Linked DNA regions of Homo sapiens: region 2 is linked to region 1. The links come from fine-mapping of genetic effects on gene expression. A gene starts in region 1. The other region holds a variant in brackets. All regions are shown on one strand. Distances are between the middles of the regions.

The links. PIP is the estimated chance that this variant, and not a neighbour inherited with it, causes the effect. A credible set is the group of variants that fine-mapping cannot tell apart.
Region 2: its variant is the best candidate, but not a certain one, in a credible set for the expression of TMEM87A in nasal epithelium (TOPMed, PIP 0.59).

What each region holds. Positions count from the first base shown.
Region 1 is chr15:42,269,147-42,277,705 of GRCh38, reverse strand. TMEM87A (transmembrane protein 87A) reads left to right here and starts at 4,273. Exons shown (of 20, transcript NM_015497.5): 1 at 4,273-4,451; 2 at 5,583-5,643. The coding sequence starts at 4,308. It overlaps GANC (glucosidase alpha, neutral C), which reads right to left and starts at 4,505. Exons shown (of 24, transcript NM_198141.3): 1 at 3,196-4,505; 2 at 1,296-1,358. The coding sequence starts at 3,224. RefSeq lists enhancers at 3,112-4,311, 4,284-4,513, 4,674-4,923.
Region 2 is chr15:42,328,307-42,336,306 of GRCh38, reverse strand. GANC (glucosidase alpha, neutral C) reads right to left here. Exons shown (of 24, transcript NM_198141.3): 14 at 6,858-7,001; 15 at 5,635-5,731. Among named protein-coding and RNA genes, the nearest start is that of CAPN3, 27 kb to the left of the region's middle. The variant TC/C (reference allele first, on the strand shown) is at 4,448.

The DNA.
Region 1 (8,559 bases):
TCGCTTGAACCCAGGAGGTGGAGGTTGTGGTGGGCAGTGATTGCGCCACTGCACTCCAGCCTGGGTGACAGAGGGAGACTCCGTCTCAAAAAAATGCATAAAAATAAAATAAAATGAAGATTTTAAAGGCATATTTTTTGTAGCTCTGGAGAAACAGGCAATCTTTTTTTTTTTTTAGACGGAGTTTCACTCTTGTTGCCCAGGCTGGAGTGCAATGGCACAATCTCGGCTCACCACAATCTCTGCCTCCCAGGTTCAAGCAATTCTCCTGCCTCAGCCTCCCAAGTAGCTGGGATTACAGGCATGCGCCACCATGCCTGGCTAATTTTGTATTTTTAGTAGAGACGGGGTTTCTGCATGTTGGTCAGGCTGGTCTCAAACTCCCAACCTCAGGTGATCCGCCTGCCTTGGCCTCCCGAAGTGCTGGGATTACAGGTGTGAGCCACCTCGCCCAGCCAGGCAATCTTATATAATGTTGATAGGAGTACAAATGGTATAATTCCTATGGAGGGAAATCTGGTAATAGTTAACACATTTCAAATGCATTTACTCTTTGACCCAGTAATCTCACTCCTAGAAAGGTATCCTATAAATACACCTGCATGTGTAGAAAATGACCTATGTATAGCTCTTCATTGTGGTAGTGCTATTTTAGCAAAAGATTAAAAACAACCCAAGGGTCTAGCAATAAGAGACAGACTGAATAAATTATATTAATAGTATATCTACCCCATGGAATATTATGCAGCTGTAAAAAGGAGAAACAATCTCCATGCACTCATATGAATTTCTCCTCAGAACAAACTATAAAGCAGGAAAAAAAACCTATTTGGTATAAAAAGGGGTGATTAAAAAAAGAGAAAAGCAATAATATAAAAATACATGTATTTACAAAAAAATACTGGAAGGATAAATAAGAAATGAAGAAATTCGGTTATTCGGGACAAGATGAGGAATGGGTAGAAGGGGACAGGAGTGGAAGCAACATTTTTCAATGTATAGCTCTTTATATTATTTTTGAACCATGTAAAAGTGTTATCTATTCAAAGCGTCAAAATTTAAAACTAGTTTAAAAATATTTTGGCTTTTAAAATAAAATAGCTGTTTATTGAAAAATTTAAATACTTCAGGAGTAAATGTATAAAGTTAAAAGTGAGTCTCCTGTCTGATGATTTCCTTAATTATTAAATTATCCTTTCCTTGGAAAGTCTATCAGTTCCAAAAATTTAATAAGCATCAATTTTGAAATACTGTCAGAGATGTTTTGATCTAGCTACTATATTTATTTTCCTTACCTGTAAAATGCGATCTTGTTACAGTCTCTGAAAATGTTTTTATCTACAGCTTCATCTTCAAGACTAAATAAAAAGACATTTTGAGAAATTTATTTCACACAGGGCTTGTGAATCCAACTTTTGTACCTTCTCTAACGACAGTATGAACATGCAAAATAAACCTTTGGAGTCTATTCTGCAATGCAAAATTGTGTCACGGCCACAGTATAACATAATAGCACATTATGTTGCAGAACAATAGCCTTTTGTAAACCCTCTGAGGTAAACAACAAAACATCAGGTTCTGGGATTACTCCAAAAGTAATGGGAAAAGATCACTGTCACTTATGAGGACATATTCTTTTGAAATAATGACTGAAGGCTATGACCACAAAAGTAAAATCTGAAGGAGGAAAACCAAAACAGCATCCCAAAACGAACAAACCAAAACCAACCAACCAGACAAACTAAGAACCATAACCCACCCACCGATTTATTCAAGAAAATATTTTCAGAATATTCTTCCTGAGAGCTGGGCTCTGAGGAAGATATGAACTGTGTTCAAGCTATCAGTTAGGGTTTTACCAGCAATCACAATACAAGCTGACAAATGCTTTAATAGAGGTGCAAGGTGCTAGAATAAGAACAGAACAGACGTAGAAGGGGAATTTCTTGCTTTTTAAGATGAGGTGACAAACTAGGGGCCATGTTTTTTAAAACCAAGTTTCCAGAAGAGCTGTTTCTGGGATAAAACATGAATGAGATATATGTATATTGAAGTTTGAGTATATGTATTTAAACTAGCCTCCATCTGATTAAAACAACTACAGATTATAAGGAGAAAAAAAAATTACACCGGCTTTCATGCACTAGTGTGGCCGAATGCATCTGTAGTCAGCATGTCCATGATTATGTAGAAAGCTATGACTGAACACAAACGTCGAAATATTATGAAAACAAGCCCAGGCAGATATACTTGGCCATACTAAAAAACTGTTTGTCCTTCACTGAACTCAGTCTTTGTCCGTTTATTTTAATTTATTAAAAAAATTTTTTTTGAGACAGGATCTCGCTCTGCCTCCTACGTTGGAGTGAAGTGGCACGATCTTGGCTTGCTGCAACTGCCGCCTCCTGGGCTCAGGCTATCTTCCTGCCTCAGCCTCCTGAGTAGCTGGGACTACAGGCCCACATCACCACGTCTGGCTAACTTTAAAATTTTTGTAGAGACAGGGATTCAGCATGTTGCCCAGGCTGGTCTGAACTCCTGGGTTCAAGCAATCTGCCCACCTATAGGCCTCCCAAAGTGCTGGGATTACAGGCATGAGCGAACCGGCCCAGTTTATTTTAATCAAGTGTACAAAGATTGGAGAATCTTTTGTTTCCTCTTTACAGCTTCGAAGAATTAACTCTGGGATGATATAGGAAGGGGTGATTATAGATGAATTTGGAAAGCAACATGCCTGAAATTCACGTGTTAAGAGTTCTGATTGCAACTTTTCCACTGTTAATGTTATTTAACCATCCTTTTTTTTTGGAGACAGGGTCTCACTTTGTTGCCCAAGCAGTGGCAAGATCACAGCTCCACTGCAGCCTCCAAATCCATCCTCCCAGTGGTCTCCCAAGTAGCTGGGACTCCGAGGGGGCGGGGAGGGGGTCTCGAACTCCTGAACTCAAGCGATCCTCCCACCTTAGCCTCCCAAAGTGCTGTGGGATTACCTGCGTGAGCCACTGCACCCGGCCTATTTAACCATCCTGAAAGTATTTTATGAGAGGCTATTAATATCAACTAACTTCCCGCGAATTGAGAGAAAAGATAAAGGTCAGCAAATACCAAATACGCAAATAAGAAATGCAATTAAAACACTATTCCCTGTTTCTAGGGACCCTGGGGTCACTCGCTACAGAAGCACTTGGCCTTTACCTTATTTCCTCTTTCACTGCTGCTTCCATGGCTTCTCTGTCACTCCGACCAGCTCCCAGCTCTCAGGACAAGGGCCCTGGGCGATCTTTTAAAAAAGCCGATTGGGTGTCTTTCTAAAATTACAACCAGTACTTCATCGTCAAGTTTCTGGGAAGGGAGTCCCCTCCAGATTCTCATGGAGTGACAAATCTTGACTCTTGCTCCTGGAATTTTTCAGGCCCAAACTAGCGTTTCTACAATGATTTATTTGGCAAATTTGTCTTGATTATGGGTGGCTGATGAGGAACGTGCTTTTGTTAGGAACCGAAACTGGGCGGCGGTGAGGGCGTGTACGCAATGAGTCCTAGAGGGTAAAAATCAAGAGCGTTAAGAACCTGGAAATGCCGAGACGGCCTCCCTGACTGGGACGAAGCATCTGCAGATCTATCTCAGTGGCGGGGTCACGCCACAGATTTTGAAAACTGACCCTCTCTGTCTCCGTTTTCGGTTAAGGGTGGGAAGTGCCGGCCGGGTCTTTGCTGGAGGCTAGGTCTCCAGCCAGATTGTACTGCAGCATCGTACTCTTCAGGGCTAGAAGGGGCCTTTGAAGGTTGTTACACTACCCAGTCTAGGAATCGCGTGTACTCCACCACCGCCGAATTCCAGCCTTTGCTTAAATACCACCCAAACCGGAGAACTCACTACTAGACGCCACTTGGGCAGCCAGGCTTAGGGCTTTTCCAGACTTTCTGGCCCCAAAGTCTGACATTGACTTAGAAGGGATGAAGGGCTGGGGCGAGCGGAAGTAGAGAGCCAAATCCTGCACGGGGTGCCTGCCTGGTCCTAAAACCTTTAACGGCTGGGAGACAGAAAAGACTCAGGCCAGGCTGGCATGTAGCGATCTCTCTAACCCAGCTGACCAGGTTCCAACAGGATGACGCCTGCGCAGTAGGTCCAAAGTCTCACGGCGCACAGACGACTGTCTGAGAGAGGGGCCGCTACGCCGCACAGCAAACAAGCTCCGCGACGTTTCCAGGACCCGGATAATCCCGCCCTTAGAGCAGAGCCGGAAGAAGGCGGGACGAACCGGAAGAGGGTGAAATGCTTTCGGTAGGCACTCCACGGCTGTGAAGATGGCGGCGGCTGCGTGGCTTCAGGTGTTGCCTGTCATTCTTCTGCTTCTGGGAGCTCACCCGTCACCACTGTCGTTTTTCAGTGCGGGACCGGCAACCGTAGCTGCTGCCGACCGGTCCAAATGGCACATTCCGATACCGTCGGTGAGTATTCACTTCACTAACGTCTGAACCTAGAGGAGCAAGGGGTGGGGCTACGGCGGCCCAAGGGGTCCATGAAGGTTCCGCAAAAGTCTCTTCAAAAGGGGTGGGGTTGCTGGGATGGTCTGTGTGGCTAGCCAACTGGGACCCACCTCCCTGGAGTGGAAAGCCGCGCACTTCTGTGATTAGGCTAGCGGGAATGTAAGGGCCACTTCAGCAACAGAAAGGAGTGGTGGAGCGGCTTCTCATCAGAAAAACAGAACTTTCAGTGCCTGACTTGAGATGTAAACTTGATGTACAAACGGAGAGTTGTTTATCTTTCAGATGTTTCACAGAATCCAGTGTCCCCGGGTTGGATAAGAAAGATATGTAAATAGGAGTCTTCATTTCTTTCTTTCTTTTTCTTCCTCTGCACTTCTTGGTCCCTGGGTAATTCTGCTTACGAGATGGTTCGACTTCGCTTCAACTTTGGAATGGCTATTCTAAGCTTTACTGTGTGACTAGAAAGCATAGAGATTTAAGAAATGTGTTTTAACATGGGAATGGTTAAAATTGAAGAAATAGTACTTAAAATTTAATGTGGTAAGGCTAGTCTTTCATTTGGATAATTAACTACATGGGTTGACCCTTTCTGCCCCTTACCCATTTTAAACCTTATTTCAGTAACAGGTATAGTCCTGTGAGCAGACAAAAACCAGATGCAGGGAGGAAATGCTGAAAAGCATTAGCCCCATTAAACCTACGTTGGCCTTTTTGTTTCATTCTGCTCTGCTCACTGACTGTAATGTCCAAATCTTATTTGGGCTTTTATTATGGTAAACGTTATACCTTTTGTTCAGTGGTGAAGATTTTCAGGTGTTCAGTTAGGTTTTTACTTGTTACTAAAATGGTTAATAGTTAAGTCTTTTTAGATTTGAAAATAAAACTCTGGTTATTTGCACACAGAATAGTTCATTAGAAAAAATGATTGGTTATTCTGAGCAGTGATTGGTGAGTAAAGGGAATGAACTGATTAAGGGGTACGTCCCATAAAGATTTAAGTTAAGTTGGAATTTCTAGCAGTCTTAGATAGTTATATGATGCTTTGGTAATTGAAGCCATCTGAGGCTAATTATCTTTCCTTTATGTTTGCAGGGGAAAAATTATTTTAGTTTTGGAAAGATCCTCTTCAGAAATACCACTATCTTCCTGAAGTGTGAGTTTTTGAATTTCATGAAGTTTTAATTTGAATTTTAAAAATTTATAGGTAATGTTTTAAATTACCTATTTTATAAGTTCTGAAATCTAATAGTCTGGCATTATCTAGGTATAAATATTTTTAGTATTACTAAGGTCCTTTTACTGAATCATCTTCAAAGTACTCGTGTGAACTTTATTTTCTTCTCTTGTTTTTCTGGTGTTTACATTGCATATATACACTATGTAGACATTATATATTAGTATATATAATGTATATATTAATATATATGCTGTATATACTACATTGAATATTCAGTCACATCTCAGTCGAATTACATTTACAGTTGATACTTTCTGAGAAAAGCATCCTTAGGTGATTTTGTCATTATGCAAACATCATAGAGTATACTTAAAACTGGATGGCACTACACGCCTAGTTTGTATGGTACAGCCTATTGCTCCTAGGCTATAAACCTGTATAACATGTTACTGTACTGAATGCTATAGGTGGTTGTAACACAATGGTAAGTTTTTGTATATCTAAACATAGGAAAGTAGAGTACAAATACGATATTACAATTTTATGGGACCCCCGTTGTATATGTAGTCTTTCATTTACTGAAATGTTATGTAGTGAATGACTGTGATTATGTTGGGGTTGATTCCCTGCATGGTGGTTTTAATCTGTTCTGTGTAGATTAAAGAGGTTTTACTCTTGTGTGCTTGTTAAATGTTTACTGCAAACATGACCTAGGTTTGTCAGGCCGTTGGCTGTGAAGGAATATATTTAGTAGATCCTTTATTTACAAAAGGAGTATTTTACTGCTTTGGAAGAGGAAGCTCAGATATTATCAAGAAATAGGGATTATGTAGAACAAAACTAGTTTGTCTAGTGGAAAAATGACTGTATCTGAATCTAAAGTATCCCATTGTGTGTTCAGTAAAAGCTTCCTTTTAGTTCTGAAACCGGCTTTAATTTAGAGAACGATTGATCGTGGGCAGCTTTATTTCTAGATGAGGGATAAAAATCCTGATGATAGATGTGTGATTCTATGCATACTGTCTTCACGGAAGTGCAAAATTTTAAGTCATAGTTGGATAATTTTATTCTTTTCAATTGTTTAGTGAGTAATTATTACTTATTGCATAGACTGTGGGGAAGTAATAGAAAAATGTTCTTCCCTCATCGAGCTTACATTCTAGTGGGAGTGAAAACAGCAGGTAGAATTTCTCTGAAGAATATATACTGTATCCATGAATATGTAATCAGTCTCCTGACCAGTGACTTATATTTGATTTAGATCAAATCTACTCTGACACTGGCCTTGTGAGATTGGTTTACTGGGTAACCTAGTAACCCTTGTCTTTTGGAATAGCTTGACAGCCTGTTTGCTGTTTTATTCTTTTATTAGGTCCAGTCTTTTTTTCTCGTGTAGTTTGATCTAGTGGTGTTTTGCCAAGTTAAACCAACTGCATTTTTTTTAAGATGGTGTCTCACTCTGTCACCCAGACTGGAGTGCAGTGGTACGATCTTGGCTTACTGCAACCTCCACCTCCCAGGTTCAAGCGATTCTCCTGCCTCAGCCTCCCGAGTAGCTGGGATTACAGGCATGAGTCTCTATGCCCAGCCCTAACTGCGTATTTTGAAGTGTTTATATTTCATTGTTTTTGGAGGATTTGAGGCACTTTATTTTTTGTTGTTGTTTTTTGAGACGGAGTTTTGCTGTGACGCCCAGGCTGGAATGCAGTGGCACGATCTCGGCTCACTGTAACCTCTGCTTCCTGGGTTCAAGCGATTCTTCTGCCTCAGCCTCCCGAGTAGCTGGGACTATAGGCGCGTGCCACCACGCCGGCTAATTTTTGTATTTTTAGCAGAGGTGGGGGTTTCACCATATTGGCCAGGCTGGTCTCGAACTCCCGACCTCAAGTTATCTGCCTGCCTTGGCCTCCCACAGTTCTGGGATTACAGGTGTGAGCCACCGTGCCCGGCCTGAGACACTTTAACATTATCTTTTTCTTTGTTATTTCTGTGCTTTCTCATATTTACCAGTTGTCTTTGATTTTGTACTTTTTGGGGGATGGTATATAGCTTTCCATGGAATAGCTGGGACCATTTTTTTTTTTTTTTTTTTTTTTGAGACGGAGTCTCGCTCTGTCGCCCAGGCCGGACTGCGGATTGCAGTGGCGCAATCTCGGCTCACTGCAAGCTCCGCTTCCCAGGTTCACGCCATTCTCCTGCCTCAGCCTCCCGAGTAGCTGGGACTACAGGCGCCCGCCACCGCGCCCGGCTAATTTTTTGTATTTTTAGTAGAGACGGGGTTTCACCTTGTTAGCCAGGATGGTCTCGATCTCCTGACCTCATGATCCACCCGCCTCGGCCTCCCAAAGTGCTGGGATTACAGGCGTGAGCCACCGCGCCCGACCTTATTGTCTCTTAAAGCCTTTCATTTAAAGTTCTAAATATTGTCTTGTAACATAAACAGCAGTATTTTTGCTGCCAAATTTCCTTACAAGTCTCCTGTTTGGGGGATGTGTTCTTACTGGCTTTTTATTAGTTAATCCTGTCCCTGTATGGATTATTTTGAATAGTTCATAGCCCAATTGCTTTTTATCATTTCCATAAATTCTATCCAACAGGTCAAATTTTTGAACATTCTAATAGAGTCCTTTGAAAATGTGTTGGTCATCTAAAAATTAGTTTGAGAAAACAGTTTAAAAGAAAAAAAAAGGAAGCTTATAATTAGGTTGCTTCTTTTGTTATGAATGAAAAGTAGATTCCTAAATGCAGTCATGTTTATTTTTGTCATGTTTATTATTACATTTATATAAAGTAGGGAGTCTTTAGTATATTTTTCCTTTCATAGCTAGAATCAAAGATAAAAGCGAATACTGACTTCCTCCAGCTAATCAGTCATATAGTCAGATTTACCCT
Region 2 (8,000 bases), 59 kb before region 1:
ATTCTGTTCCATTGGTCTACATGCCTGTTTTTGTGCCAGTATCATGTTGTTTTGGTTACTGCAGCCTTGTAGTAGTTTGAGGTTGGGTAGCATATTGCCTCCTGCTTTGTTCTTTTTGCTTAGGACTGCCTTGGTTATTCAGGCTCTTTTTTTTTTCTTTTTTTTTTTTGGTTCAATATGAATTTTAAAATAGTTTTTTCTAGTTTTGTGAAGAATGTCATTGGTAGTTTGACAGGAATAGCACGGAATCTATAAATTGCTTTGGGCAGTATGGCCATTTCAACAATATTGATTTTTCCTATCCATGAGCATGGAATGTTTTTCTATTTGCTTGTGTTATCTCTGATTTCTTTGAGCAGCGTTTTGTAGTTCTCATTGTAGAGATCTTTCACCTCGCTGGTTAGCTGTATTCCTAGGTATTTTCTTCTTTTTGAGGCAATTGTGAATGGGACTATGCTCCTGATTTGGCTCTAGGCTTGACTGTTGTTGGTGTATAGAAATGCTAATGATTATTATATGTTGATTTTGTATCCTGAGACTTTGCTGAAGTTGTTTATTAGCTTAAGGAGCTTTTGGGCTGAGACTATGGGGTTTTCTAGACAGAGTCATGTCATCTGCAAATAGGAATAGTTTGACTTCCTCTCTTTCTATCTGGATGCACTTTATTTCTTCCTCTTGCCTGACTGCTCTGGCCAGGACTTCTTCCAATATCATTTTGAATAGGAGTGGTGACAGACGGCATCCTTGTATTGTGCCAGTTTTCAAGGGGAATGCTTCCAGCTTTTGCCCATTTAGTATGATGTGGGCTGTGGATTTGTCAAATATGACTCTTATTATTTTGAGGTATGTTCCTTCAGTACCTAGTTTGCTGAGAGTTTTTAACAAGAAGGGATGCTGAATTTTATTGAAAGCTTTTTCTGCATCTATTGAGATGATCATGTGGTTTTTGTCTTTAGTTCTGTTTATGTGATGAATCACATTTATTGACTTGGGTATGTTAAACCAACCTTGCATTCCAATGATAAAGGCTTCTTGATCACGGTGGATAAGCTTTTTGATGTGCTGCTGAATTCAGTCTGCCAGTATTTTGTTGAGGATTTTTGCATCAATGTTCATCGAGGATACTGGCTTGAAATTTTCTCTTTTTTGTGTCTCTGCCAGGTTTTGGCATCAGGATGATGCTGGCATTATAGAATGAGTTAGGGAGGAGTCTTTCCTCCTCAATTTTTTGAAATAGTGTCAGTAGAAATGGTATCAGCTCTCCTTTGTACATCTGGTAAAACTGGGATGTGAATCTGTCTGGTCCTGGGCTATTTTTGGTTGGTAGGCTTTTTACTACTCATTCAATTTTGGAGCTCGTTATTAGTCTTTTCAGGGATTCAATTTCTTCTTGGTTCAGTCTTAGGAGGGTATATGTGTCCAGGAATTTATCCATTTCTCCTACATTTTCTCCTTTGTAATTCCTAATTGTGTTTATTTGGATTTTCTCTCTTTTCTTCTTTATTAGTCTAGCTAGCAGTCTATCTATTTTGTTATTATTATTTTTTTTTCAGAAAACCAACTCTTAAAGTAGGTTGTCTTTCTTATTATTATTGAGTAGTAAAAGTTCTTTATATATTCTGGATACAAGTATTTTGGCAGATATATCTGTATATGTATATTTCAAATATTTTTTTCCTCAGTCGGTGGCTTGCCATTTCATTTTCTTACCAATGTCTTTGAAAGGGCAGACATTTTTAAATTTTGATAAAGTCTAATTTGTCATTTTTTTCTTTTATGATTCATGCTTTTTGTGTTCTTTCTAAGAAATGTTTGTCTGTTTCAAAGCCATAAAGATTTTCTACTGGCCAGGTGCAGTGGCTCACGCCTGTAATCCCAGCACTTTGTGAAGCCGAGGAGGGCAGATCACTTGAGGTCAAGAGTTTAAGACCGGACTGCCCAACATGGTGAAACCCTGTCTCTACTAAAAATGTAAAAGTTAGCCAGGTGTGGTGGTGGGCACCTGTAATCCCAGCCACTCAGGAGGCTGAGGCAGGAGAATCACTTGAACCCGGGAGGTGGAGGTTGCAGTGATCTGAGATGATGCCATTGCATTCCAGCCTGGGCAACAGAGTGAGACTCCATCTCAAAAAAAAAAAAAAGATTTTATTCTATGTTTTTTTCCAGAAGTTAGGTTGTATTTTTAGCTTTTAAAATGAGTTAATTTTTTAGTTTAATTTTGAATATGGTATGAGGTAGGGGTGTAGTTTCATTTTTTTCCCCACACAGATATCCAGTTGTTTCAGAACCATTTACTGAAAAGAAATTGTAATTTCTCCATTAAATTGCCTTGGAAACTTTGTTGCAAAGCAATTGATCACATATGTGTTGGATACTCTGGATTCTCTACTCTGTTCAATTGATCTATGTACCTATTTCCTCCCACCTCCACCAGCCCCTGCTTCCAAAGAAAACCCTAAAAAATTTGAGAGAAGTGTTACAGGCCTTAAAGGGGAGACATAATAACAGTAGCAATAACAATAATTAACATTTATTTAACCCATACTGAGCCAGGTGTTATGCCGAATAGTTTGCTGGTATTATCCTACTTAATAATCACAACAATCCTATCAGATAAACACTATTATAAACTCAATTTTATAGATGAGGGAAGTATAGCAAGCAATGGATGCATAATCTACCCAGAGTTACACAGTTATTAAGTGGTAGAGGCAGGATTTGAGCCCAGGCACTCTGATGCCTAAGCCAGTGTTCTTGTTCTTATTTACTGAAGAGTTGCTAAGAGTTTGTGATGAGAGATTATATACCACCAAAGACAGCCATAAAAGGGAAAGTCTTATTTTATGAAATATATACTACTTCTGAAGCATTTTTGTCTATCTTCTACCAAAATAGTTTTGGTAGCTATTTTTGTTTTAATCTTTCATAGAAATTTTAGGCCGCCCTATGGCCAGGAAAAAAAAAATTCTTTTTTTTTTTGAGATGGAGTTTCACTCTGTGGCCCAGGCTGGACTGCAGTGGTGCAATCTTGGCTCACTGCAACTTCCACTTCCCAGTTGCAAGAAATTCTCCTGCCTCAGCCTCCTGAATAGCTGGGACTACAGGCATGTGCCACTATGCCTGGCTCATTTTCGTATTTTTAGTAGAGACAGGGTTTCACCATGTTGCCCAGGCTGGTCTCAAACTCCTAACCTCAAGTGATCTGCCCACCTGCCTCAGAAAAGTACTGGGATTACAGACATGAGCCACTGCTCGTGACCAAAAAAAATATATATATATATATTTTTTGAGACAGAGTTTTGCTCTTGTTGCCCAGGCTGGAGTGCAATGGCACGATCTCTGCTCACTGCAACCCCTGCCTCCCAGGTTCAAGCGATTCTCCTGCCTCAGCCTCCCTAGTAGCTGGGATTACAGGTGCGCGCTACCACGCAGCTATTTTTTTTTTTTTTTTTTTTAGTAGAGACAGGGTTTCACCATGTTGATCAGGCTAGTCTTGAACTCCTGACCTCAGGTGATCCACCCGCCTCGGCCTCCCAAAGTGCTGGGATTACAGGTTTGAGCCACTGTGCCTGGCTCAAAAAAAATATTTTCCAGGGATTGTTCTTTTAAAAAAGTATTCTAATTTCCTCTTGACTTCAAGCGAGATATGTACGTATTTACATAATGATTTTGAAATCCGTATGGAGACATTCTCATCAAGAAAGAAAGCTCACATAAACATGCAGATATTTTCATGTCTCATACTATTGTTTAGTCAGAAGTTCTCTATGGCTATTGATCATCGCATATGACTTAACAAAGTAGTGTTTCCTGTAATGTCTTGCTACACAGTGAAGCAAAGCTGATAGCTTCACACAGAGTACTGCAGGCTAAGCAATGGACCAACATAAGAGATCAACAATAACCTAATATTTAAATCTTCTGTTATCTTTTTTTAACTGTTGCTGGTAAATGTTTTCATTAAAAATACTTTTTTTTGTGATTAAAAATGATACTTGTAGACAATTTGTAAAATAAAGTTAGATAAAAGAAAAAAATGAAAATCACTCAAAATCACCAAGGTATTACATTTTCTTATATTTAACTGTCTGCCTATCTACCCACTTATTTATTTAAATTACTATCTTCCATTAATCTTTTATAAAATTGAGATAATAAGAAATAAGACTTGATGTTTGATAGATCAGTAAGGTGACTATAGTTAGCCTTGATTGTGTGCATTTTAAAAAAGCTAAAAGAGAATAATTTAAACGTTCCTAGTATAAAGAAAAGATACATATTTAAGGTGATAGATATCCCAATTACTCTGATTTGATTATATGAACATATCAAATTATCACACATATCCTGAAAATATGTACATCTAATACATATCAATACAAAATTAGGTTAATATTATAAACACTTAGGTGTTCCTTTTTTTATTTATCATATCAAAAACATTTTT[TC/C]ATGCAATTAAATCTACCATTTAAAATAGCCTTATGAAAATTAAAAAAAGAAAAAAAATTTTTTAAACATAAATAGCCTCACGATAATCTATCATGTTGCTATACCATACTTTTATAACTATTCCCTTATTGTTATGTATTTAGATTTTCTTTCTTACTTTTGTTTCAAGGACTACCACTGTGTTGAATACCTCTGTACATGAATCTTTGCCTGAGATTGTAATATTTTGGCCCTTTCCAGAATGCCACAGGGCCAGGTTTTCAGGGGTGGAGTGGGAGGCTTAATAATGTCCACAGGATAGTAAGGGCTGGATTCTTTAAACTAGGATCTAAGCTCTCCGTTGCTTATGCAAGGCCAGGGGACTTAAAATAGCCTTCCTGCCACAGGGTTGTTAAGTTGAACCAGATCTGCATTAGCTGGTAAACTGCATCCAGTTATAGATGACCCTGACCACACGCAACAGCCAGGTCTATTTTAAGCCACATTTCTAAGTGGAACAGTTGGTTAATGGAATGTGTTAGAGGTGTATCTCCCTGGCTTTGATAAATCAAAGAGACAGGACCAAAGATGACTATCCCAGCAAACTGAATACTTAGAAGTTACTCTCCCAACAACGAAGTGGCCATTTCTTCAGTGAGAAACAAGTATCAAATGACTAAAATTTGTTTATTCTGTCTTATAGGACAAAATCCACACTTTAGGGCATACCACTGTCTACAATCAAAGGCCTGACCAATGGCTATTGAAAAGGAAGGCATCAGCTGAGTGTGGTGGTTCACACCTGTAATCACAACACTTTGGGAGGCCAAGGTGGGCAGATCGCTTGAGTCCAGGAGTTCGAGACTAGCCTGGGCAACATGGTGAAACCCTGTCTCTACCAAAAAATACATATACATATATAAATTAGCTGGGTGTGGTGGTGTGCACCCGTAATCCCAGCTACTCATGAGGCTTCGGTGGGAGGATTGCTTGAGCCCAGGTGGTCAATGCTGCAGTGAGTCATGACTGTGCCACTGCACTCCAGCCTGGGTGACAAAGCGAGACTCTGTTTCAAACAAACAAATGAAAAAAAAAAAAAAAAAAAAAAGGAAAAGGAAGGCATCAGCACAGTAACATCACATTCTATAAATGGTTAAAAAAAAAGTTGCTAATGTGTTTTTAAGTCTGATATGAGCCATTCCTTACCATACTTTTGTGATCCAGCAAAGAAAGAACGTGTAAGAACAAAGGGTCTCTCCTTCCCTTTAGATCGTTTTATCAGTCCTTCTGCAGTAGCCATTTGCTATATCACCAAACAAGAAAAATTTCAAAGAGATGATTGGATTTGTACAGACATCCCCAATAAGCTATCTAACATACAAAAAGCAAACAGTAGGCAGGAGCATGAAATGGAAAATATTAAAATAAATCCATCAAATAATTTTCATGGTATAATGAAATTACTCTAAATTCCCCTATTAAAAGAATGGAAAATTTTCTTTGGTTAACAATAGCAATGAAATAATAATAAACAATCATCTAGCATTTCTTTGGTGCTTACTATTGCTAGGCATTTAATATAATTTTCTCATATAATCTCCGTAACAACCTCTGAGACAGACAGTTTTCATTGGTACGAAAAACTGAGCTTCAGAGAGGTTAAATGACTGGTCCTGACCTATATAAGACAGCTCACTAACTAAAGCAGTCTACAGTTACTGCAACAGGCTGTTAAAGAGGCAAACACACACAATCTGAAAACTATGCTTATATTTAGCCAAAAGATCCCATTGGAAAATACCAATAGGTAAGAGGGCCACAGGAATACAGTCACAATTTGAAAATAACAAAGAACCATGGGTATACATGAGGTCAAGTGTCTGCCACGTCTTTTGGATGTAGTTGGCAAATGAAAGATAATTTTACCACCTTTATTGAGGAAGCTAAGTACTTAAGGAAGGCTTTACATTTTTAAAATATACTTATTGAAGCTGTGTGTCTGTGTTCTAAATATTGCTCCTCCAGTGTGAATATAAGATTTGCTGTATTTAGATATCTGTGAAATCTTAAAACACTTGTTTTAATTACCTTCATTCACATATTTATATACTGCTTGCATCAATAAAAGTTTGAGGTAGTGGCCAGTGAGTGCCACTTATTAATGGCTCCTATCAAGGCAGAAGCTTTATGTTATAATTAATTTCATAATATTTAAAAGTTCATCAAGTTCATCATGAAAAGAAAAGAAGCAAAGGGAGAAATAATAAAAAGTCTTGTATTGGCTACTACCTAAGACTCATTGCAGTTGTCAGAAAAGACACACAAAGAGAAATGAACAGTAGAGAATAGCCATTATATCACAAAGCAAATGACCTTCAGCCAAAAGGTGGGTCACACAAGCCCAGTTTAATTCTTTTTGGATGTCTTACATGATAAAAACCGTAGATGTTGTGGAGCTCTCTGTGCTCCCAATTGCCATGATGAATGGCATTCTTCTGCATGGTTTGCTCTGGCCCTCTAAAGACAGAAGGCTCATTCATGTCATTCCAAAGGAAGAGGATGTCCGTAGATCCCTAGGAAGTAAACCTTGGTCATGACACTCCTACATTGATGATGTCTATATAATAGCTGTCACCATTGCTACCTCATTTTAAAAATTATGTTTATTATCTATGCTCTGTCCTCTGCTCCACTGCTAGAGTATAAGTTCCACAGGGAACAACATTTTGTCTGTTTTGTTCATTAATAAATCCCAAACATCTAGAATAGTACCTGGCCCATAGACAGATCTCAATAAATATTTGCTGCTGAATAAAAGAATGCTGCCCTGTGTTGTCTGTGAAATATATATTGCCTGGCAAATTCATTCCAAGACCTCCCTGCAGGACTCCTATGGGAAAGGTTGTGAATGTTCACAATTGGGCTCCTTCTCATTCATCAGATGCTACAACTCTTAACTAAGGGCAACTATAGCTGAACATGACAAGATTCTACCTTCTCTCTAATACTTTGAAAGACTTGACAGCCAATATACCTGTTTGTTAACATGATCTATAGTTTGTATCCTACACAGAACTGTTCAGTTTAGAGTGGGAAGGGACAGTTGAGTCATCTAGCTAACATGGTATTGTAGAATCCCTGGTCTTTTCTAGAATCACTTATCTTTTGGCGTTTGACTGAATAGCTAAAAAGACAGGGAGTCCCTCAGGCAGCTCATTCTATTATTTTTCAAAAATCCTGCTCCTTGTATATAACATTCCCCTCGCAGAGCCTACCTAGCTTACCTTCTGAGACCCCACAGAATACATCTGTCACCTCGCCCACAAGAAAGTCTTTCAAATTCCTGGAGGTGGCTTGTTTTTTTTTTTTTTTGAATCTTTATTTCTAAACATGTGTGTTCTTCTATGTATAAGGGGGTAAATGATTTCCAAATATTTAACTACCATATCTTTCCTTTAGAACCATCTAAAGCAGGGATTGGCAAACATTTTTGGTAAAGGTCCAGATAGTAAATATTTTCAACTTTGCAGGCCATGAGGTCTCTTTTTCAATTATTCAACTCTGCCATAGTA